Homo sapiens: one gene and its partners. The protein of the gene in region 7 purifies or fractionates together with the protein of the main gene of each other region. This does not show direct contact. Each region holds a gene or a part of one and is shown on either strand. Other genes may lie near its edges. The genes, in order: TGFBR1, TPM1, UBAC2, TMEM33, AMFR, KDSR and SLC44A3.

Region 1 (3,500 bases), on a different chromosome or scaffold from region 7:
AATTGCTCTCCTCTCCCCCAGTAGTTTGTCATGAGCAGAAGTTGTTCAAGAATTGTCTTCTTTTTTTAATTGAATGAAATTATGTACAGTCCATTATCTGAAACAGGATGTCACCGAGTGCCAGAGAAAACAAAGGCGATGAAACCTTTGGGAGGGGACAGTGCCATGGTGTGCACATGCACAGCTCTAGCCTAGTGTATTCTCTTCCTGTTTCCATTTGAATCTGGAGACTCATCAGAACCCAACCCCTTGTTATATTGGAATATAGTTCTTTAGAATGGACAGCTGCTTGAGAGGCTCACCTAGGAAGCTGTTTCTAGCATGTACCTGGGTGTCAAACTTATTTTTTTTCTTTGAGATTGTGGTTATTTTCTCCAACTTGATAGTTACAGTTACATACACAGAATACAATTATGTTACCATTGTGTTGTATTCTAGAGTTAGTTTGTTTTAACTTCTAGCTTTTTAGATGGAGTACTTTTAATGTTTACTCAGGAAACAGTCTCTTAGGCTTGGGGACCTAGACTTGGCTGAGACCTAGTGCCTTAGGTTTTTGAAGCAGTGAGGGACAGAGTATTTCTCTGTATTGTAGTAAATAGGATATATTATTGACAGATGCAAGTAGAGAAAGGGACTTGGCACCTTAAACTTGCCTCATAAGATTCAAGTCTCACTGATAGGGTATATATATCCCTGTGCAAGTGAGAGCCTGTGCACTTACAGAATAGAATCTCATTTGCTGCACAATAGGGTTCTAGGGGAAAATGTCAATCTGGTCATCACAGCTCATAGTTTACTGTCATTTCAAATAGGCTTTATTGATCTCATGGCAATACTTAGTTTCAAGGTGTGGGTGGAATATCAACTCAGGGAAGTGGCTTGTGGATACAGATGTGGATGAGATAGAGAAAGCTGTAATCTCTGTTCCACATACCTACTTTAGTAATGAAACACTGTAATAGGTCTCTCAGGTGATCTTTTAATGCCTTGGCATTAGCTGAATAAATTCATCAAAATTTAATTTTTTTTAAACTGATACAGGAATTCATGAAGATTACCAACTGCCTTATTATGATCTTGTACCTTCTGACCCATCAGTTGAAGAAATGAGAAAAGTTGTTTGTGAACAGAAGTTAAGGCCAAATATCCCAAACAGATGGCAGAGCTGTGAAGTGAGTATTTCTTTTTGATATTAGGCAATTTTCTAAACTGCTTCTGCTTAGTAAGCAAAAGTTTGCTACTTTTCTTTAAGGAAAACTTTTCTTTAAGAATTTTCTTTTTCATAGCAGTCAAACCAATGTTTAAAAACAGAATAATTTGGTTTTCATATTCAATTGTAAGCACATTGAAAGGGCCATGGAACATTTGCAGTGGCCTTTAGTGTATCAGAACATAGTTTAGATCTGCCGGGCGAACTAAGGCACATATTTTTAAATGAATGCCTCCCTTCAGCCGGGGCAACCCAGAACACTAGACAGTTACCGGACATGAATGAGGAGCCCTGTATTCTAGACCAGCCTGGCTACCATTTCAAGGGTCTGACTCTGAACAAATCCCTTTAGTTCTCTGGACTTTAATATCCCTTTGCAAGGTGAGGAACTCAGATAAGGTGATTACAAAGGTGTTTCAAATGATTTTCCGTTTTATTCATCTGATTGCCCAGATAACCGTTAACCAGGAATTTAGGGAAAATGCTTTTTTCCAGCAGTATCTGAGCTGCTCAACTTCAGCTCTAACAAAAAGTTTTAGAAACGTTTTTGTAATTGTAAATTTAAAGATTCGTAAGATGAATTTTATTTAACCTCTCCTTAATTGCTAGCTGTTACTATTACAATATTGGTGAAGCAGAGCATATTCCTCCAGGTTTGAAGATTTGTAGCTTAAAAAGGCTATAAAAAGCTGTTCAGTTCAGTAGTTGATTTTACGTCTTAAACTATTGTAGGACTCAGCAGAACCTCTGATAAGCAAGAGAGCTTGCTACCTCCAACAAAATCACATCTCCAGGCCCAAATAAATAAAATGTATTTCAGCATGCTTAAGGAATTTGCATGTGACATAGTTTAATAAATGAGAGTGCTGCTAGATTTTGTCTTTTAGAAATTTGATCTACTTGGGAGGCTGAAGTGGGAGGATTGCTGGAGCCTGGGAGGTCAAGGCTGCAGTGAGCTGAGGGCATGCCATTGCATTCCACTTTGGGCGGCAGAGTGAGACCCTGTCTCAAAAAAAAAAAAAAGAAAGAAAAATTTGATGTGAATACTTCAAAGTACAAACTTAAAATTTCAGTGTGAGGTCAGATTTCTTCTTTGCTTTGCCCAGCTCTGGTTTAGGATTCGGCCTTTTCAGGTTTGCTAAATGAGTCACTCTTTGTCCACCTGCTTTCCAGCACTGGCACCAGTACCCTATTGATGGAAATTTATGTAATTTCTACTCATTTGCTATTACAAATAATGCTTAAACAATAACAAGTGTATATGTCATTTAAAAAGAAAATTTACACGTAAAAATTCTTATCCAGACCAATGGAAAATGGTGCATGCATTAATTTTTTTTTTTATATTTTCTTGTAGGCCTTGAGAGTAATGGCTAAAATTATGAGAGAATGTTGGTATGCCAATGGAGCAGCTAGGCTTACAGCATTGCGGATTAAGAAAACATTATCGCAACTCAGTCAACAGGAAGGCATCAAAATGTAATTCTACAGCTTTGCCTGAACTCTCCTTTTTTCTTCAGATCTGCTCCTGGGTTTTAATTTGGGAGGTCAATTGTTCTACCTCACTGAGAGGGAACAGAAGGATATTGCTTCCTTTTGCAGCAGTGTAATAAAGTCAATTAAAAACTTCCCAGGATTTCTTTGGACCCAGGAAACAGCCATGTGGGTCCTTTCTGTGCACTATGAACGCTTCTTTCCCAGGACAGAAAATGTGTAGTCTACCTTTATTTTTTATTAACAAAACTTGTTTTTTAAAAAGATGATTGCTGGTCTTAACTTTAGGTAACTCTGCTGTGCTGGAGATCATCTTTAAGGGCAAAGGAGTTGGATTGCTGAATTACAATGAAACATGTCTTATTACTAAAGAAAGTGATTTACTCCTGGTTAGTACATTCTCAGAGGATTCTGAACCACTAGAGTTTCCTTGATTCAGACTTTGAATGTACTGTTCTATAGTTTTTCAGGATCTTAAAACTAACACTTATAAAACTCTTATCTTGAGTCTAAAAATGACCTCATATAGTAGTGAGGAACATAATTCATGCAATTGTATTTTGTATACTATTATTGTTCTTTCACTTATTCAGAACATTACATGCCTTCAAAATGGGATTGTACTATACCAGTAAGTGCCACTTCTGTGTCTTTCTAATGGAAATGAGTAGAATTGCTGAAAGTCTCTATGTTAAAACCTATAGTGTTTGAATTCAAAAAGCTTATTTATCTGGGTAACCCAAACTTTTTCTGTTTTGTTTTTGGAAGGGTTTTTGTGGTATGTCATTTGGTATTC
Region 2 (3,500 bases), on a different chromosome or scaffold from region 7:
CTGCTATTGTCTTACATGGCTGAGCCTGGGTAAGTCTTGTCTCAGTTCACACTTCAGGCCCCCAGTGAGTGAGGTGGCCGTGATGACGCTCTTGTTTAACAGGCAAGTAAAGCCAGGGTGTTGAACTCTACGGAAGTGGGCCGGGCGCAGTGGCTCACGCCTGTAATCCCAGCACTTTGAGAGGCCAAGGCAGGTGGATAAGGAGGTCAGGAGATTGAGACCATCCTGGCTAACACGGTGAAACCCCGTCTCTACTAAAAATACAAAAAAATTAGCCGGGCGTTGTGGCGGGCGCCTGTAGTCCCAACTACTCGGGAGGCTGAGGCAGGAGAATGGCGTGAATCCAGGAGGCGGAGTTTGCAGTGAGCTGAGATCGTGCCACTGCACCCCAGCCTGGGTGATAGAGCGAGACCCTGTCTCAAAAACAAAACAAAACAAAACAAAAAAATCTACGGAAGAAAGGAACCATGTGAAAGAGCGTTTGCTAATGATCTGTCTGTCTGATGAGAATTGTGTGTATAGATTTGTGTATACACAAATATGGATGTTCACTGTATAAATCAATGTGTAAATGTGTCCGAGAACTCCAGAGTTGATGAGGGCTTGTAATGCACTTAAAGGTAGCTCACCACAAGACAGTCTTCCTATCTGAAATCAGCATTGCAGTCCCAGCCATTTCCTGAAGCTACCACCCTCACTTTCTCCCCAACTCTGAAATGCTTTTCACTCTCTACCTAGGCTGAAGCCGACGTAGCTTCTCTGAACAGACGCATCCAGCTGGTTGAGGAAGAGTTGGATCGTGCCCAGGAGCGTCTGGCAACAGCTTTGCAGAAGCTGGAGGAAGCTGAGAAGGCAGCAGATGAGAGTGAGAGGTGAGAATGCCTCATCAGCCATCTTTTGCAGCTGCCTTTCCTGGTGGAATAAACCGGAGGGCTCCTGTGATCTTTGAGGTTTAAGAATTTTTCAGTCCCCTGGTGGTGGGATCATTTCCTCTATTGATCCCAGGTATAACTCGGTTGGTTTTGTTCATTTAGCATTAGTGAAACACCTACTATGTCCAAAGCACTGTCCTAAGCCCTAAGGTTACAAAGAAGAAGATGATCTTGTTCCTGCCCTTACAGAACTCACCATCTAATGAGGGAGACAGACATGTAAAGGAGAAATGTCAGGGATACAAGTTGGCCCTTTCACTCCTACTGACCACAGAGCAATTGTGCATTTTTTAAAGTGTAACTTTATTTTATAATATACAAGGAGGCTTAGGTGTAAATAAAGGAACTGTGGACTATCAGTTGTCAAAATAGCTTAACAAATAGGTGGAAGAAAAAACACAAAGCAGAAACATGGTCTGCAAAAGTAAAATATTTTGGACTTGGTCTTAGTAATATACACAACACACATGCACACAAATAGTCAGATGCTCGTGTGTTCTGAGCCCACCTCCACTGTAATCTGGCTGTAGCTGAATTATTACTCAGATTCAGCTTTGTGGTAGTAAAGGAAAGCATGGTTCGTATAGACCAGCACAGCCTTGTGTGGTCTAAAAGGCATTTTCCCTTAAGCTCAACTGTTGGAAGTAAGGATTTGCCATATTGCATAGAAGTACTTCAAGAGAGACTCCATGAGGTGAGAGAGCGTTCTGCCGCTTGAGGGATGGCATAGCATGAAGGGGCTCAGAGCACTGAATGTGTATCTGTCTGTGCTGTGACCTGGGCAAGTGAATGCAGTCAGTCATCTTGTCCATTTCTTACTCTTTGAAGTGACCCTACCACTAGGTACCAGGTATAAAGAGTGATTTCAGACTTTAGGATTAAAGAAGATTTTTAGCTAAACTTTTTAGGCCATTATTCACCGCTGCTTAGTGTTTCTTCGCTAACCAAGCATTTTGGACTTCTTTAAGATGACTAAGCATCTTACAGTGTACGCATAAGAGCAGTTTTGTGGCTGACTTCTTTCTGAAATATACTTGTTAGTGTACCTTAAAGGCAGTCTGGTAATGTTAGACTTCGGAGTAAAGGGGACTTGGGGATCATTTAGTCCCTTAGTTTTACAAATGAGAAAAGTAGGGCTCAGAGGCTGATGTGACTTGCACCAAGGCTCACAGCATATTTGTGGCTAAGCCAAGACTCCGACCCAGATCTCCTCAACTGTATTCCAATGCTTCATCAAAAGATAGTGGGCCAGATGTGGTGGCTCACACCTGTAATCCCAGCACTTTAGGGGGCCGAGGCGGGCAGATCACTTGAGGCCAGGGATTCGAGACCAGCCTGGCTAACGTGGCATAACCCCTAAATCTACTAAAAAATAGAAAACTTAGCCAGGCGTGGTGGTGCACACCTGTAATCCCAGCTACTCGGGAGGCTGAGGCAGAAGAATCGCTTGAACCCAGTAGGTGGAGGTTGCAGTGAGCCAAGATCACACCACCGCACTCCAACCTGGGTGACAGAGCGAGACTCTGTCTCAAAAAATAAAAATAAAAAAATAGTGGTTCACTTATACTGCCTACTTAAATTTTGATAAATGAATTCCATTTTACATGACTTGTTATTCCATATATCTGTAAAATATCATAGGTCATTTAGTATTTTTCTGAAACATTACACCACGCTATAGGACCCTAATATACACCATGCCATAGGACCCTAATACACTCAGTGTAGAGGACAGTGTCAGGCCTGTCTCCCAGCATTGCTGTCATGAAAGGGTTCCATTATAGGTAAAACTTAATTTGATGCATTCAGTTGAACCATAAGAAATTGCCATTATTACTTGTCTGAAATGGTCAAATATCAGCATTCTTTGTGGACTTAATAGTTTATTAAATCTAACATTAAGTCTAATATTTTTGTTTATGGGTGGCAGGGTAAGAAGATTCTTTGTAGAAAGAGGTATATAAAGATAAGTTTGATTTTGTTCTAGCTTTGGTTCATGTGCAAGCTGAGGCTTCCCACAGGAAAGGCAAGAAATCTCATTATCTTTTTAATAGTAAAGCATATTGGCTTTTCCGGTTTCATACTGCCAAGATTCAGACAGATTCCTGACGTGGTACCTTTCGTCATCATTAATGTTAGATGCCTGATAGTTTCATCAGTACTCAAAGTGAGAGAGTTCATTCACAGTGAACAGAGAGAAATGTGTCTCTTTTTTCCACCTTTAGCTCTGGAAATTGTTGTTTCCTGGTTTGGAAAATAAAAGTAGCTCTGTGCTCTATTTTGGTCTACCACTTACACTAAGCCTCACAAGCCACAGCAGTGCAGTGTGCATTTGGGAAGTTCAGCTCTAAATCTTGGGTTTTCTTGCTTGTCTTTCTTTTCAGAGGCATGAAAGTCATTGAGAGTCGAGCCCAAAAAGATGAAGAAAAAATGGAAATTCAGGAGATCCAACTGAAAGAGGCCAAGCACATTGCTGAAGATGCCGACCGCAAATATGAAGAGGTCAGATCCTGGGGCCCAAAGCCTTGTGGACACCCAGCAGTGGCCTTCAGGAAGCCAGGGAGCAAT
Region 3 (3,500 bases), on a different chromosome or scaffold from region 7:
TCCACCATGCAGGTACAGACCATGCCTGGCCAGCCCCGCAGCCCATGGTGCCCCCCTTCCTTCCCACCTCTCTTCCTCCTTCCCACCTCCCTCCTGTGACCCCTTCCCCTTCTTTCTCCCTCCCTTCTGTGACCCCTCCTAGCACACATAGTCATCATCTTTGCGCTTTCCTGTCTCGTTTTACTGCTTAGTGTGTGGTTTAGGTTCATTCATTCACAGAAGTGGAATCGTGTTTTCAGGCTTTGGGTCTGGCTTCTTTCTCCCAACATGGTGTTTTTAAAATGCAAACCTTAAATATTCCGCATGAATTTGAGGCTTGGCATTTACATTCCAACAAAACACCCTGTTAAGATTTTATTTTGAATGATATTTAATTTATGTATTAATTTGATGAAAATTGGTATCTTAAAAGTTTTGCATCTTCCTATTCATGGAACTGGTATCTTTATTATCACTAGGGTTGGTTTTGAAAAAATATCCCTTATTATCTTTTTCTTTTTTTTCTGTCAAGGCCTTATATATATATTATTTATTTATTCCCAATTATCTTACAGTTTTTCTTGCTGTTATTTGCTAACAGTTTATTTTTTCTTTCTAAACAGTCTGTATTTTATCCCTGGTTGCTTTTAAGGATTTCTTTCTTTTGTTTCACCACAGTGGATCTAGATGTAAATTTCGTTTTAGCATTCTTTTAGGGACTCTTGCCCTTTCATCCTAAGGATTTATATTCTTTCTTTATTCTAGAAAACTCTCAGCTGTTTATCTCTTTAAATATAATATCCTTTCCCCCATATTCCCTCTGTTGTCTTCTTCTGGAACCCCTATGCTGACAGCCGCATGAGATGCACATAATCTGCCTGTGCAGAGGCCTTGGCCTTCCCAACCCACATGGACCCTCCTTGGTTCATGCCCTACACAGCTTTTCCCTTCTCTCTGTGGAGGGGAGAAAGGGTACATGGAGCATGAGGAGGAACTGGGGTGCCTCTTACCCAGACTTAAGTAACCCTCTACTTCTCTCCTCCTTCCACAGGGCCTAGACCCTCTAGTCCAGGGGTATCTAGTCTTTTGAACTCTTCTGTGACACATTGGAAGAAGAATTGTCTTGGGCCACACATAATATACACTAACACTGAAGATAGCTGATGAGCTTTAAAAAAATTGCAAAAAAATCTCCTAACTTTTTTTCTTTTTTTCTTTTTTTTTTTTTTTTTTTTTTTTTTTTGAGACAGAGTCTCACTGTGTCGCCCAGGCTGGAGTGCAGCGGCACAATCTCGACTTACTGTAACCTCCACCACCCAGGTTCAAGCGATTCTTGTGCTTCAGCCTCCTGAGTAGCTGGGACCACAGGTGTGTGCCACCACGCCCGGCTAATTTTTGTATTTTTAGTAGAGACGGGTTTTTACCATGTTGGCCAGGCTGGTCTCAAACTCCTGACCTCTTGTGATCCGCCCGCCTTGGCCTCCCAAAGTGCAGGGATGACAGGTGTGAGCCACTGCGCCCAACCTTGTAATGTTTTAAGAAAGTTTATGAATTTGTGTTGGACCACATTGAAAGCTGTCCTGGGCCACATGTGGCCCACAGGCCTCAGGTTGAACAAGCTTGCTCTAGTCCCTGTGCTTTTCTGAGTCCCACAGGACTCTCTGCAGGCATTTGGACTTATATGCTGCTTATATGCAGAGTGGTTTATAATCACTTGATAAGCTTTCTATTTTGTTAGCATGGTTCAGGATTAGTTTCTGGTTTCATGGACCTTGGAGTTTGTTTCTGTTTTCATTTTCTTTGTCTTGTACTATTTTTGAGTAAAGGGGCACAGAAATTATTTGAAACCAGAAGTTGTCCACCATTCACTCTTCAGCCTACTACAGTCTGTCTTTGGTACCAAAACTGTTCTTGTAAACACCTTGTTTATCAAACACCTCCATTTGCAACATCCAGTGGCTAGTTCTGTCTTACTTATCAGCTGCATTAGATATAGCTGACCATCCCTATTTTAAAACACTTCTTAGCTTCAGTGATAACTAAACTCTATTTCCCTTCTCTTCACTGGCAGCCCTGTCTCAGATTTCCTTACTGGCGTTTCCTACTCTGTCTGTCCATAGAATATTTGTGCACTCCTGGATTCAGTCCTTAGTCCTGTTCTCTCTTCTGCTGTGTCTCCTCCTCCCCCCCATTTTATCTCCTCTAGTCCTGTTACCCTAAATGTCATATCATATCCAGTGACTCTGAAATCCTTATCTCGACCTTTTCCTTGAGTTCTAGAATTACATAGCCACCTGCCCACTCAGTAGCCCCCCAAGATATCTAATAGACACTCCCAAGCTCGGGCTGCGCAGCATCTGCTGCTTTCTCTGCCCAAAATGTTATTTCCCCAGTTCATCAAGTCACGGGCACCGCATCATCCTTAAGATCTTCGCTCAAGTATCACTTTCTCTGAGGGCTCTCCTGATGTCCCCCGCTGCCCCCAGAGTAGGTTCGTGCCCCATGTCACTTTATTTCCTTCCCAGAACTTGCCAGAAATAGTTTTATGTGTTGACTTGATTACTGCCTGTTCTCCACATTGACTGCTATAAGCCCTGTGAGAGTGGGGCCTTGCTTATCTTGTTCTTTGCTGTATTCTAAGTTCCCAGAACAGTGCCTGGTGTGTAGCACAGTCTCAAAGAATTCTTGCCAATTCATCAATTTAAATTTTATTTTTAAACATTGAAGTATACTTTTCTCATATTAGAAAGTTGTCAAATATGTTCTAATCTGATCTTCTAATCCTAAGAATCAAATTCACATCAAGATTTTTTTTTTTTTACAAAGGAATAGCCATAGTCATTTTTAACTAGAAAATCATAGGAAGCCTTGAGACTTCTGTAACCATACATTATAAATGACCTTCAAGATGAAGACAAGGTTGGTTTATAAATGGAACTAATATTGGTGAGGATTTTAAATGTCTAGAAAAATCAGTAGTTGAAAAACTGATTAAAACACTATGTAAATAAAAACCAAGATTTTAGATTGTGTTTATTCTCTGATAAATTGATCGTGTGACTGGGTCAGCTGAGACATGGCAGTTGTTTTCTGCTGGTGTCTCTGTGATGGCCATCTGCCAACAAAGGTAACCGCAGAGTCAGTACAGTGTGAAAGTGTTTCAATAATCAGATCTTTTACGGCTTTTTAAAAAATGAAGACAGTGTCTTGACAATCTTTTACCAGAACTTTGAATACTAAATGATTAGAATTTTGCTAGCTCTTCTAATTCAATAAAAAACAATTTTGTTTTACTAAGTTCAATTTTGTGTTGATTTGCACTGCTTAGTGTTCTGCAGTGTGGTAGAGGATTTTGCTTATTGCCTAACACTGCTATGACTAAGAAAAATACCGTGTGCAGTGTCTGGAGGCTGCTGATTTTTGAGTCGTGTACATTTTTTAAAATAATACTACATTTAAACAATCACATTGGACGTTTTTCTTCTAGATGTCCGGTCTGTGCTACGACAGCAAAATGTTCC
Region 4 (3,500 bases), on a different chromosome or scaffold from region 7:
CATTAAGCATATACATGAAACATGTAATTGCCTTAGAGTTTTCACCTAATGATCTAAAAAAACAAATGGAGGAAGATTAAAATATTTTGAGTAGACATAAAAACCACACAGTCTTGATGCTTAAAAACATGATTTGCAGGCATAGCTTACAGTATTTTTCTTTTTAAATTTAGCAATTCATGATGACCAATAAACTGGACACGGCAATGTGGCTTTCTCGCTTGTTCACAGTTTACTGCTCTGCTCTGTTTGTTCTGCCTCTTCTTGGGTATGTATTATACATATTGCTGCCTTTGATATTCAATTGTTGAGTCAGTTTATATGGAGTGCCTTTTAGGTGTAAGACTTATTAACCTGTAAAGGGTTTAGGGACAAATAAAATACAAGTTCCAGCCTTCAGGTACTAACAACCTAATAACATTATCAGAGGAATATTTTATATCTTGTGCTTTGTGAAACTAACACATTGAAAATCCAAGGAAAAATTGATGTGTGGGAATGAGATAAGTTCATGTTTTTTTCATTTTTACTTATTACTTGACAGGAAGGTCCTGCTTTATAAAATTCAATTTTATAAATTGATTATAAGAAATTCAGTTGGGCATATATATGAAGTGAAGCTATTAAAACGGTAGAATAAGTTCATGTAATTTTTTTCTATTGACAAGTGATTTAGGTGTTGTGCAATTATGATGCAATTCACAAAGGAGGAAGAGACACTGCAGTTGTTTATGTCTCATGATAACCTCTCCTCTGGTAATTTGCAGGTTGCATGAAGCAGCAAGCTTTTACCAACGTGCTTTGCTGGCAAATGCTCTTACCAGTGCTCTGAGGCTGCATCAAAGATTACCACACTTCCAGTTAAGCAGAGCATTCCTGGCCCAGGCTTTGTTAGAGGACAGCTGCCACTACCTGTTGTATTCACTCATCTTTGTAAATTCCTATCCAGTTACAAGTATCCTTTTCTACCTTGTTAACAATGAAATTGCCAACTAAGCATATAGGAGATCTCTTCTGATTATTTCAGCAATGAAGGCATTCCATGAAGCCTGGGTTTGTTCTCGGCACTTCATTTGAATGAAGATATGTTTAGTGTAAGAATTTCTGACTTTAAAATGTGAAATCTAAACTTTGAAGAGCTGATTTAGGAATTTTAAACTATCTTTGTTCTTGCCTCTTGTAAGCTTCCCTATTAGAATGGATATTTTCAAATTCCCCTTCGAAGCACAACCTTACGCAGAACTTACTTTAATATTTACATTTTTTTCATTTAATTCACGTTTTTGGCAAAGTGTCCAGATGTCTTGCTTTAAAAAAGAGAGGTCCTCAGCTCTTTCCATCTTAACCCCAGTGAACTAGATACAAATGGAATTTAACCAAGAAACAACTTATTTAAGCAGGTAATGAGATAATCAATACAAAGAAATTAATATTTGCTGTGTATAGAGTAGAAAATAAGGACACACATGGATAATCCGTGAAGCTAATGAGAAATAATTCATTTGGAATTTGTATGTTTTCACATTTCAAAGGTGTGTTGTGGGATGATACTGGGTAGTCCATAAAGGAGGGGAAAAATGGGGAAGAGGTTCTATAGTGAACACTAGGTTAAACTTTCTTTTTTTTTTTTTTTTTTTTTTTTGAGACAGAGTCTTGCTCTGTTGCCCAGGCCACCTGCCTCTGCCTCCCAAAGTGCTGGGATTATAGGCGTGAGCCATCACGCCCAGCCAGGTCAAACATTTTTAAATAGGGTTCTTTACTATAGTGGCTTTGGTATTCTAACGTGTGTTGTGAAACTAAGAGAGTTAGTAGGGTTTTTTAAACTTAAATTTGTGGTTGTTTTTTTTCCTGTAGATTATCTCTGCAAATCATTTTGTGCATTGAGAAGTGCTGGTCTAAGAGCTTTTGAATATTTATGATACATCTGTATGTTATGTAAAGCACAATAAAATATTCCTCTGAGACTGAATATTACCTATTTAGATACCTATGCTCATGAAGTATCAAATTTTTAAATAGATTTTTATAAGTCTTAAGGAAAAGAAATAGGAGGAAACCGAAATTTCCTGAGCACCTATTTTGCCAGTATAAGAACTTGAATTTAGGCCAGGCGCGGTGGCTCACGTGCGGTGGCACTTTGGGAGGCTGAGGTGGGCGGATCATGAGGTCAGGAGATTGAGACCATCCTGGCTAATATGGCGAAACCCCATCTCTACTAAAAATACAAAAAATTAGCTGGGCATGGTGGCATGTGCCTGTAGTCCCAGCTGCTCGGGAGGCTGAGGCAGGAGAATCGTTTGAACCCTGGAGTGGAGGTTGCAGTGAACTGAGATTGTGCCACTGCACTCTAGCCTGGGCGACAGAGCGAGACTCCTTCTCAAAAAAAAAAAAAAAAAAAAAAAGAACTTGACATTTAATCTTTGTAGCACTCTGAAAAAAATTGTTGTGGTATATTTTTAATAAAGATGCTGATTTGCTGATTGTCAGTATTCACTTCCCACACATTGGCTAGTAAGTAGTAATGCTGAAAAAGTCTTTCTAACTTAAAAGCTCTACCTTATCTACAGTTAGTGGGTGAGTAATACTTAAGTATACATTAAAAATATTTCTTTCTGTATGTGGGTAAACCTGGTAATTTCATTTAAATATTCAGTATATGGAGATTCCCTTTAAATTACTCACTTCACTGAGATAATGTGGGTAGTTTGAAATGTAAGGATAAAATTTTTCCTGTTTCAATGCATGAGTCTGTAATGTCCCATCATAATTTGTATTGGTTTATTTTTAGGTAAAACTCATTAAATGATTACTATACTACAACTGTAAATGATAATCACATTTGTTTGGCATATTATTGGCTTGACCAGCCTCTGTTGATTGAAGTGCTTTGCAGTCACCAATGTTAAAATTCTAGCCTTTCTGAGCTATAACGGGAAGTTATGTAGAGATTTTTGGTCATGCCTTTTAGTAGCTTAAAATTTCTTTGGAGGGAGAAATAGAAATGACAGAAAATGTGTTTCAATGTAGGGTAAACTGAATACGTCAATAACTTTGGGAACAGTGCCTCACACAGATCAGGCACTCAGTAAGTTTTGTTGAGTGAATCCTGAGGTCTTGCCAAATGAGACTCATGACTGGTGAAGAAAACCTTTCTGCCTTTTTATACAGTTGGTTATTTGGTAGCCCCTCTTTCCTGGGAATGTTGAAGATTAAGGATTTCATATTCCTTAAATTCTTACAAAGGGAATGTAGTAAACAGTGGGAATAACATAAACTAGTAATTGGCAGCAAATGCTAATCTGATTATTAAAGTGATATGGTAATAAATAAAAGCGGGCCCAAAGTAATATTACAGATTTGCGTTCTGATCCTTCTTCTTATAAAAGTGATATTTTGTCCTTGCTTGATTAATAACAGATAGGGCATTTCACCTCTTATCTTTTCTAAATACATTGTATTAATAGTTTAAGAGTAATGTTGAAGACTAAGATTATGAATCT
Region 5 (3,500 bases), on a different chromosome or scaffold from region 7:
CAATTGTGCTAGCCCTAATAGACTAGGAATGCCAATTTCAGAGAGGAGGACTAGAGCAAGATTGAGAAAGAAACAGAACAGAACAGGCACTGTCCTGAGTCCTGTTGAAGGTGAGAGGAGAGAGTTGTATACCCTCGGAACATTGCTTCTAGAGGTTTATAATCCCAGTGCTAGGAGGATCTTTGAGAGTAAGGGATGAAAATATAATGCATATTGTTATACTCAGTAAATTAAATGACACGGATCTCTAAATATCACCTCATGCTCATATTTGGGTTATTGGAGAATAGGACCATATAGTAATGGGATGCTTTTCTGTGCTTAGCACAGAACCCTAAGCAGAGAAGCCAAGATTGACCTTGAATTTCTCAGTGAAGTTTAACACTTCCATGAAGAAGAATGAGCAGTTTCCTACTGTGTGCATTTCAGCTTTCCTTCTCGCCCACCACGCCGATGAGCAGCCACGGTCGAGTCCTGTCCCTGTTGGTTGCCATGCTGCTTTCCTGCTGTGGACTGGCGGCCGTCTGCTCCATCACCGGCTACACCCACGGAATGCACACCTTGGCTTTCATGGCTGCAGAGGTGAGATACTGGATGCAGGACTTGCTCAGATTGTATTTCTGTCTGTTTTCAAGGAAGCTGGATGTTTGACAAGTTATTTTCACCCATGAAATGACAGGTGGATATTTGGTCTTTCATTTTAACAAGCATTTCAGTTCCTTTTTGTGTGTTGGGTACTGGTACTGAATGCTTTTGTGTGGTATTTTATGTAACTCTTTCTTTACGTAGGGTATAAAGATTTTACAAAATAATGAATAAACTGTACTCATCATTTTGAAGGAAAAATCTGGTCTATTCATGAATATTTTAAGATTTAAAAATTTTTCACTCTTTTAAACCTTTCTGAAAATACCAATTTCTGTTCAGTAGAAATAAAAATTCTCCAGCCTGGCCAATATGGTGAAACCCTGTCTCTACTAAAAATACAAAAAAAAAATTAGTTGGGCGTGGTGGCGCACGTCTGTAGTCCCACCTGCTTGGGAAGCTGAGGCAGGAGAATTGCTTGAACCCGGGAGGCGGAGGTTGCAGTGAGCAGACATTGCGCCACTGCACTCCAGCCTGGGTGACAGAGCGAGACTCCATCTCAAAAAAAAAAAGAAATAAAAATTGTTTGTATGTCCTTATATTTAATGGCTATATTTGCCTTTTCTTCAGGCCAAAGGCAAAATACTTTTATCTTACCCATAATTAGTATTATTAATTAAAAAATGAGATATTAGATAAACTGAAGCTAATTGGCTAATATCAAAACACTACATTTGAACTACTCATTGGGAATTTGGTAGAGCAGAGTTAAAGTTTATTTCTGTTTGATAGCATTCATTTTTGAGTACATTTAGTAGTGTAAGTAAAATTAGAAAAGAAACATTTAAATACATAATGTTAATTATCATATTATAATATTGTAATTAAAATACAATAGTCCTAATATAAATAATAAGATATGTAATCTTAGGTGAATACTTCTGTATATGAAAAATATACAACCGTATTTCGTCTTGACAGAAAATCTGTTGAAAAATCCATTTACACTGACTTATTTGCTTTAGATTTATTGCAAAGTTAGAATGATACTTATGTTTGCCTTTTTTTGATTCTCTAACTTTCAACTAATATAATATTATCCAAACTTTGAAAAGGGTATACCTAAAAATAAGCACATTTAACTTAGGCCCGTCAGCTCATACTATAGTATATACTTTTATTTTAGCTTGTTACTGTTTATTCTTTTAAGATAATTTATCATATTACAGATTTGATATTTTAAACTAAATCATTTCTTACATTCATAGTGTTTCTCTCTCCTGTAAAATATTTTTCACTTACAAATGGGAATTTAATCTAAAACATAAATAATGTAATAGTTTTATTCTACTAGATTAAGAGGACTTTTTTTCTTAATGAAAAATATCTTTTTTTTTTTTTTTTTTTTGAGACAAGGTGTCACTCTGTTGCCCGGGCTGGAGTGCAGTTGCTTACTGCAACTTCCACCTTGTGGGCTCAAGTGATCCTCTCATTTCCTTAGTAGCTGGGACCACAGGCATGAACCACCATGCCTGGCTAATTTTTGATTTTTTTGTAGAGATGGGGTTTTGCCATGTTACCAGGCTGGTCTTGAACTCCTGAGATCAAGCAGTCGGCCTGCCTCGACCTCCCAAAGTGCTGGGATTACAGGTGTGAGCCACTGTACCTGGCCGTCAATTTCTGTAATAAAAAAAATACCCTTCAAGACCAGCCTAGCCAACATAGCAAGACCTTGTCTCTACAAAAAAAAAAAAAAAAGCCATGAGAGACTTATTTTGTCCCTCTCCTCTCCTCCCCTCTCCTCTCTCCTCTCCTCTCTCCTCTCCTCTCTCCCCTCTCCCCCCTCCCCTCCCCCCTCTCCCCCTCTCCCCCCTCTCCCCCCTCCCCCTCCTCTCTCTCCCCTCTCCTCCCCTCCCCCCTCCCCTCTCCCCTCTCCCCTTCCACTTCTTCCCCTTCCCCTTCCCTTCTGACAGGGTCTGGGGTCTGGCTCTCTCACCCAGGCTGGAGTGCTGTGGTGCGATCTCTGCTTACTGCAGCCTCCACCTCCCAGGTTCAATCCATCCTTCCACCTCTGCCTCCCAAGTAGCTGGGACTACTGGCACGTGCCACCATGCCCACCTAATTTTTGTATTTTTTGTAGAGATGGGGTTTCACCATGTTGCCCAGGCTGGTTTTGAACTCCTAAGCTTGAGCAATCCTCCTGCCTCGGTCTCCCAAAGTGCTGGGATTAAAGGTGTGATGTGGCTGGCCTTATTTTGCTTTTGATTGCTTTCGTTCTTTTTTCTGCTGGTGGACAAAGGGAGTGCACAAAGCACTAGGGAGAGAGCAGGTCCTCGTGTCTAGGATAGCAGTACCTGAACTATACTTGGAGTTACAGCATCACCCTTCTAAGTAATCAGTGATAGTGACTTAATGCTGTGTGAAATAGAATTGATGGTCAGACTACCAGGGTAAACCTCAAGATTGTAGGGGGATTCCTGGGGGGTAGGTGTAATTGGTTGTCACCTATTAACAGGACTTTTCCTCAATAAAAGTTGGGTTTCTAGGTCATAAAAATATTTTACAGAAATTTGAAGCAGAGAAAATAAAATAATGGGTAAACTTGAACAATCTGCTTTTTAATTGAACTGAGAAATGTTTGTCTTTTATCATTTTATAAAAAGTTTGGCCTGAGCAATGCTACATTTTACTAAAAAGAAAATATCCTTTTTTATAGTCTCTTCTTGTGACAGTGAGGACTGCTCATGTGATTTTACGGTGAGTGAAATTGGGGAGGGAGGTGATGGAGGCCTACTCATACAGTTGATTTTAAGATGTAGCAGGTATGAAATATATAAAAATCGGACTAAATTACAACATGGTTAAACCAAATTCAGTAGTAACAGTAAATTACTAAGGTGTTTTCTCTCTTCATT
Region 6 (3,500 bases), on a different chromosome or scaffold from region 7:
CTGTAGTCCAAGCTGCTGGGGAGGCTGAGGCAGGAGAATGGTGTGAACCCAGGAGGCAGAGCGTGCAGTGAGCTGAGATCGTGCCACTGCACTTCAGCCTGGGTGACAGAGCAAGACTCCGTCTCAAAAAAAAAAAAAAAAAAAAAAGAGAATAGAAAAATCCCTTTGTTTTTTTCCCTACACCCTCAGAGCACTGAAGCCAGTCCTTGGATCTTCCGGAAAAAACAATATTTAAGGTGAGACCTGAAGGATTAGAAGTTGGCAGGACACAGAGAAGATTCCAAAAAGAAGAAGATGGGTAAAGAAAGAAAGAAAAAAAAGAGCCTGGAAAGGTACGTGGGGTAGGAGATCAGGTGGTTTATGGCATGCGATGGAAATTTTTTTAATTTTTAAATCCTTTTTAGAGACAGGGTCTTGCTCTGTCACCCAGGCTGGAGTGCAGGAGTATGATCACAGCTCACTGTAGCTTCAGACTTCTGGACTCAAGCAGAAGTCTCCCAGTTGCTAGGAATACAGGTACACACCACCACGCCTGGCTTTCTTTTCTTTTACATTTTTTTGTAGAGACAGGGTCTCACTATGTTGCCCAGGCTGATCTCAAACTCCTGAGCTCAAGCGATCCTCCTGACTTGGCCTCCCAAAGTGCTGAGATTATAGGCATGAGCCACCATACTCAGGTGCAATGGAATTTTTAAAGCTTTATCCTGATGGTATCAAGGAGTCATTGAATGTTTTCATGCAATGTATAGTTGCAGTTTAGAAACAACTGGTGTGGAAAATGTGAGGGTACACTCAAACGCATCCAGGGGGCCTGAGCAGGGGGTTGCAGACCATAGTGGTTGCAGGGACTGTGCTCCTCCCTCAGGAGCAGCTGCCACCTGTGCTTGCTGATGACTGCCAGGTAAGAATGCAGACTCTGTGCAGCTAAACCTTCTGATTTTCCAAGAAAAGTCTGAAATCTGGACCTTTTATATAAAACCTAATTTTAAAACTATTTTAAAATCTTAAACACACACACTCACACCAGATGGACCCAACAAAACTGCTTTACAGGCCCATGGGAATCGTTTACAACCTCTGGCTCAAAAAGTGTGTAACTCAAGCAGGGGGCCTGCTGCGGCAACCCAGGCCTGGGCTCCAGAAGCACTGCCAGAATTGCAGAGAATGGAAGAATGTGAAGAACTGAGTGACAAGGATGACAATGATCTCTGACGTGAGGGACAGAAGCAGGGGAGTCCAGGACAACACGCCAGGTGTGAGCCACCATGCCAGCCCAAAAATTAAAACATAAAAGAATTCATGCATTTGTTCAGCTCAGGGATTCTGGAGTTCCTACTAAGTGCCAGGCGCTGGCTGTTAGGGGTACAACGGCAAACAAGAGGTGTGGGCCTGGTCCTCAAAGAGCTTACATCTAACACAGTGTCAACCTCTAAGAGAATGGCAAAGACAGTAGGTACATTACAGAATGAAAAGAAAAGAGGGCTTGGGAAAGACCCTGAAGAAAACCAACAACTAAGTCATTTATATAAGTCTGAATGTGGTTGACTGCACAGAATTTAGTACTTGTTAACAACTATCCCATGGCTTTGTCTTTCCAGAGCATTCCCTCTATTGTAACCCCTACTTCATTACACTGCACTACTATCTTTTTTTTTTTTTTTGAGACAGAGTTTTGCCCTTGTAGCCTAGGCTGGAGTGCAGTGGCTTGATCTCGGCTCACTGCAACCTCCACCTCCCGGGTTCAAGTAATTCTCCTACCTCAACCTCCCGAGTAGCTGGGATTACAGGCGTCCGCCACCATGCCCAGCTAATTTTTGTGTTTTTAGTAGAAACAGTTTCACCATCTTGGCCAGGCTGGTCTCAAACTCCTGATCTCAAGTGATCTACCCACCTCAGCCTCTCAAAGTGCTGGGATTACAGGCGTGAGCCACCGCGCCCGGACTACTATCACCTTTTTGGTCAGTGCATTCCACTTGACTGTATGCCCCTGAAGCTGGAGAGGTCGCCTTCCATCTGATTCCCCATGAGCAAGTACAGTGCCTAGCACACCAATGAAACACTGTGTATCTTGGACAAAATAATACATTCTATAAGCGAAGCAACTGTTTAATCCATGATTCGTGTCTCACTAAATTTAGCTGTGTGTGACCTGATTCACCTAGAAAAGGTTTTCTAGTCTAATATCCCAGTACTTTTTAAGCAAGGCTACCCCTTACTCTAGAGGAGTATTCCATTTTCAAAACACATTGGAGCAGTGGTTCTTAGGTGAAAATCCAGGTTAACACCTCAACAGCAGATACGGTGTTTTATTTCTCTATCTGCAAGGCCCGGCACTGAAGACTTCTTGCCATTCTAAATTCCTGAAGTTATATCTTTAACCTATTTACTCATTCCTGGTGGAGGAAGAGGAAAAGTTGATAGCTCCATAAAAATACATTGTCAAATAAAGTTACTTAGTTTTCCCTTAACCTCTTCTCATCAAGGTTTGATGAAAGGCAGTTTTTCTCTTGTCCATCGGCCTGTCTGATTGCTAGCCTAGGCAGAGCTTACCTGCTGGAGCCCCTCAGTAATAGAAGTTACTGGAGCCATCCCACAGGTCAGGGCCGAGAGCATGTACCCATCTGAGCCAAGGGAACTGTTGAAATTTCCTTGCTAAAAGAGAAGAAAAAGAAGAGAAAGAGGGAATCCTAGTAATGTGGACAGAAATCAGTCGGACACATCAGAAACAGTGGAGTGTGCTCGTTCACTTTAAGTGAGATAAAATGGTCACAAAGCATTGATCAGCACTCAGAAATGGACGCACGGCCTTGGCAGATGGCAGTTCTCAACAAGTGAGTCCACGGACCCCTGCGGGCCCCCAAGGACAAATGATTGTCCTAATAACACTAAGACATTCATTGTCTTTTCCACAGTGTGTTGTATGGAAAATACAGTTTTGCCTCTGCAAAACTGCAGAGACATGGGCAAGAACCACGGGGTTCTTGCCAAACTGTACTAGGAGTCATTGTCACCTCTACTACCACACGCACTCGCAGTAATAAATAATACACAAAGAAAATACAAGTTCTAAAATTCTTTTAAAAATCAAAGTGTCAGTTTTGCTTTAAAATCCTCTTGATAAAGCAGGAAAATTCATCATTTTGTTCAATGGCAACCCTCGAGGACATGTCTTCTTAATACTCTGTGTGACAAATGAGAATGCGCCCAACGCGCTTCCGCAGCACTGCATTCCAGGGCGGGACAACTGCCTGGAACAAAAGTCCTTGTGCAGCTCCTGAAGTCAAGGGCTAAACTGCCACTTCTTTCATGGAGCATCATTTGTATTGTTTATTTATTTATTTTCGACAGAATCTCACTCTGTGGCCCAGGCTGGAATGCAGTGGTGTGATCTCTGCTCACTGCAACCTCTGCCTCCCAGGTTCAAGTGATTCTCCTGCCTCAGACTCCCAAGTAGCTGGGATTACAGGCATGCACCACCACACCCGGGTAATTTTTGTATT
Region 7 (3,500 bases):
AGAGGAAGACCCCGTAGGCTGCCCTTTATGGGAGAGACCTTGAGAAGGGGTCCCAGAAGGTTTTTTTCCCTCCTGTTGGGGATGGGAGAAAGGTGGTGCAACAGGAGATGAGGAACAGATTTCCTGGGTGTGTGATATACATATTTTTGAAGAAGTTTAAAAATTGTGTTAAAATATACATAAAATTTACCATCTGAATCTTTCTTTTTTTTTTTTTTTGAGACAGAGTCTCGCTCTGTCACCCAGGCTGGAGTGCAATGACACTGCCACCTCTGCCTCCCAGGTTCAAGTGATTCTCCTGCATCAGCCTCCTGAGTAGCTGGGACTACTGGTGCCTGCCACCACACCTGGCTAATTTTTGTATTTCTAGTAGAGACAGGGTTTCACCATGTTGGCCAGGCTGGTCTTGAACTCCTGACCCTGTGGATCTGCCCGCCTTGGCCTTCCAAACTGTTGGGATTACAGGCATGAGCCACTGCACCAGCCCCATCTGAATCTTTCTAAGTGTACAGTGACATTAGTACATTCACGTTGTTGGGCTATCATCACCACCATCCATTCACAGAACTCATCTTCCCAAACTGAAATCTGTACCCATTAAACAATAGGTTCCCACCCTCCTTTCCTCCAGCCCTTTGCAATCGCCATTTTACTTTCTGTTTCTAGGAATCTGACTACTTTACATATCTCATGTAAGTGGAATCATACAATGTTTGTATTTTTGTGACTGGTTTATTTCACTTGGCATGACATCCTCAGGGTTCATCCCTGTTGTAGTATGTGTCAGAATTTCCTTCCTTTTTAATATTTCATTGTAATATACATATCACATTTTGATTATCCATTCAACCATTGATGGACACTTGAGTTGCTTCTACCTTTTGGCTTTTGAGAATAATGGAATGTATACTCACTTCAACCAGGAATGACTGTTTGTTGACACTGCATTATGAACACAATGTGAAATGGGAGCACATGGGCATCTAAGTCGCCCTTCCTCCTCCTGTCTTCTTTGTAAGTGGCTCTATGAGTGCAGGAGAAAATGCTCCGTAATTAGTCCATGCCCAGAAAGAGCAAGAGCCCCCTTAGGAGCAACACTCAGGAGGATAAGAGGCTTAGTCTGAGATTTGTATTTGGTGACTCCAAACTTATATTCAGGATTTATTTAGATCCTTAGGATTTCTCTTCTAGGAGCTACTTTTATTATTGAGTCCTAAAAATCCGTTTTTGGCTGGGTGTGGTGGCTCACGGCTGTAATCCCAGCACTTTGGGAGGCTGAGGTGACAGATCACAAGGTCAGGAGATGGAGGCCATCCTGGCTAACACAGTGAAACCCCGTCTCTACTAAAAATACAAAAATTAGCCAGGCCTGGTGGCGGGCGCCTGCAGTCCCAGCTACTTGGGAAGCTGAGGCAAGAGAATCTCTTGAACCCGGGAGGCAGAGCTTGCAGTGAGCTGAGATCTCCCCACTGCACTCCAGCCTGTGTGACAGAATGAGAGTCTGTCTCAAAAAAATAAAAAATAAAAATAAAACATCATTTTTTTGTTCTGTCATGTGAAGCAAGAGCTAAAATCTTAAAAATTCTTACAAGGCAGTCTCCATCTTAGAAGTTCATGGTCAGGGATTTCTCTCCCCTCTAGGGAATTCCCATCTCTTCTCTCCCCTTTCTGTTTCCCTGTGGGAGGTGGGGTAAGGGAGTAGGGGGAAGAATGCAACACCACAGTGCCATAGCTGGGGCAGGGGTGGGACACAGGTCCCCAGTGTTCCAGGTGGCATTCGGGTATTTCCACGTAGAAACAATGTGTGGATGATGTAGGGTTCAAACATATACGATTGGTAACATGATTCTGATTCATTATGGAGAATAATAGCAGCAATTAACGTTTATTATACTTTAGCTCATGCAGTGTCTCATGAATCCTTAAAACAACCTTGTGAGGTAGGTATAATAACTAGTTTAGAGAGATGAAAACTAGGCTTTGAGAGGTTAAGTACTCTGCCCAAGATCACACAGCTGAAAAGTAGCATGGGCTGAATTTGAACTTAGGACTATGATTCTAAAACTTGTACTCTTACCTGTACTATATACACAGCCTTCCTTTTTATAAAATAGGCTGACAGAGTTTTGAATGGGAAAAGTTTCCAGGCTCCAAATGATGAATTTATACAAAGTTTTGAGGTACAGTTCCTTACAGACTGGGGACTTATTTAGATACTTACTTTTTTAGGGTCATGTCCTGCCCTGAAAGAGGGGCCCCTTCCACGGGGGAGTTCTTCTTGCCACACATGTTGCCAAAGCTGTCATAGCCAAAGAGGAGTCTTCCCGCGGCTCCAGCCACCACCGAGTAGCCCATGATAAACACCTGGCAAAAACGGGGGCATATGAGAGCCTGGCCAAAGGGCTGAGCGCACAGTGCCCCACACCCCTGCAGATGCTGATATAAAACGGAGCCTGGTGGAACGTGAAGCTCTCCAGCATCATAGCGCTTTGCTCCGTCAGTAACAGTGTCAGCAACTCCCATCTATCAGCATCCTGCTCCTCTGCTACTTATACATTTAGGTAGAGAGAGAATCTAATCCACTGAAACAGATTTCTCTCCATTTTCTTACCTCTGTGCTTTTTAACCTTTTCCTTAAGAGTCTATCATTTTTCTTTTTGGTCTAACTTTACTGGGACAATTCAATTTTTCTTCCCTTGATGTTCTTGCTTAATTTAACTGCTTCAGGGCTATGCTAATTCTTTCCCCAAGGTTTTTTTTTTTTCTACTACTTTTTTTGTTTTTCTTTTCTTACTTTTAAGGGATTCTGCAGAAGCAACACAGTTGATATGTACTGAAACACTGTTCACCAATCTGCAAATAGTGTTTTGGAGTAACTGCTTAAGACATACAAAATAAAGGACCACAGGAATTCTGTTGGACAAGAACATCTTGCAATCTATCATCATTTTTATCCACTCTCATAGTGAATGTGGAATATTTGAAATTTCAGTTCAAACAACTGTGCCATTAATACATACTGACAGGCTCTCTGCCAAGATTGAATATGTATCTTCCCATAATGCAAACTTAGTAAGTTTCCCAGTACTGTATGCAATATATAGGATACCATTTAATACTCTATATTGACAAGTTCATTCCAGGAGAACAGATATAATACACTATTCATTAATATATAGTATTGATACCTTATGCTGCAAAGGTACATTGTCCTAAATTCAAATACCTTCTAGACATTCTGCATTTATTACTAATTTAGAAATCAAAATAACAAACATTCTTCAAGTGCCCAGTGTGTTCTTGAGACTTTCTTACTGGGAGACACAGGAATGACCAGAACCTACTCCTTGCCTCCAGGAACCCAGCCTAGAAGGCAAGCAGGACTTACGGGCTGCAGACCTCCTGGGGAAGGAGGCTCCCTGTCCTTTCCCACTCTCCAAGATCCTCCTAAGTCTAACTGGTCAGATTCTAGAATGAATGGGTCACCTTTGCTAGTAGTG

The links.
Region 1: the proteins of SLC44A3 (region 7) and TGFBR1 purify together in Homo sapiens (affinity purification with mass spectrometry; one large-scale study listed by BioGRID and IntAct). This does not show direct contact.
Region 2: the proteins of SLC44A3 (region 7) and TPM1 purify together in Homo sapiens (affinity purification with mass spectrometry; one large-scale study listed by BioGRID and IntAct). This does not show direct contact.
Region 3: the proteins of SLC44A3 (region 7) and UBAC2 purify together in Homo sapiens (affinity purification with mass spectrometry; one large-scale study listed by BioGRID and IntAct). This does not show direct contact.
Region 4: the proteins of SLC44A3 (region 7) and TMEM33 purify together in Homo sapiens (affinity purification with mass spectrometry; one large-scale study listed by BioGRID and IntAct). This does not show direct contact.
Region 5: the proteins of SLC44A3 (region 7) and AMFR purify together in Homo sapiens (affinity purification with mass spectrometry; one large-scale study listed by BioGRID and IntAct). This does not show direct contact.
Region 6: the proteins of SLC44A3 (region 7) and KDSR purify together in Homo sapiens (affinity purification with mass spectrometry; one large-scale study listed by BioGRID and IntAct). This does not show direct contact.

What each region holds. Positions count from the first base shown.
Region 1 is NC_000009.12:99,146,613-99,150,112, forward strand, and holds part of TGFBR1 (TGF-beta receptor type-1 isoform 1 precursor), read left to right. Parts: intron 1-1,041; coding exon 1,042-1,172; intron 1,173-2,567; coding exon 2,568-2,693; 3' UTR 2,694-3,500. UniProt on the Homo sapiens protein: Transmembrane serine/threonine kinase forming with the TGF-beta type II serine/threonine kinase receptor, TGFBR2, the non-promiscuous receptor for the TGF-beta cytokines TGFB1, TGFB2 and TGFB3.
Region 2 is NC_000015.10:63,056,247-63,059,746, forward strand, and holds part of TPM1 (tropomyosin alpha-1 chain), read left to right. Parts: intron 1-738; coding exon 739-872; intron 873-3,316; coding exon 3,317-3,434; intron 3,435-3,500. UniProt on the Homo sapiens protein: Binds to actin filaments in muscle and non-muscle cells. Plays a central role, in association with the troponin complex, in the calcium dependent regulation of vertebrate striated muscle contraction.
Region 3 is NC_000013.11:99,336,854-99,340,353, forward strand, and holds part of UBAC2 (ubiquitin-associated domain-containing protein 2 isoform 1 precursor), read left to right. Parts: intron 1-3,466; coding exon 3,467-3,500. UniProt on the Homo sapiens protein: Restricts trafficking of FAF2 from the endoplasmic reticulum to lipid droplets.
Region 4 is NC_000004.12:41,938,429-41,941,928, forward strand, and holds part of TMEM33 (transmembrane protein 33), read left to right. Parts: intron 1-173; coding exon 174-268; intron 269-767; coding exon 768-955; intron 956-3,500. UniProt on the Homo sapiens protein: Acts as a regulator of the tubular endoplasmic reticulum (ER) network by modulating intracellular calcium homeostasis. Mechanistically, stimulates PKD2 calcium-dependent activity. Suppresses the RTN3/4-induced formation of the ER tubules.
Region 5 is NC_000016.10:56,405,046-56,408,545, reverse strand, and holds part of AMFR (E3 ubiquitin-protein ligase AMFR), read left to right. Parts: intron 1-429; coding exon 430-582; intron 583-3,301; coding exon 3,302-3,342; intron 3,343-3,500. UniProt on the Homo sapiens protein: E3 ubiquitin-protein ligase that mediates the polyubiquitination of lysine and cysteine residues on target proteins, such as CD3D, CYP3A4, CFTR, INSIG1, SOAT2/ACAT2 and APOB for proteasomal degradation.
Region 6 is NC_000018.10:63,332,707-63,336,206, forward strand, and holds part of KDSR (3-ketodihydrosphingosine reductase), read right to left. Parts: intron 2,653-3,500; coding exon 2,551-2,652; intron 1-2,550.
Region 7 is NC_000001.11:94,823,357-94,826,856, reverse strand, and holds part of SLC44A3 (choline transporter-like protein 3), read right to left. Parts: intron 2,365-3,500; coding exon 2,222-2,364; intron 1,025-2,221; exon of another isoform or gene 915-1,024; intron 1-914.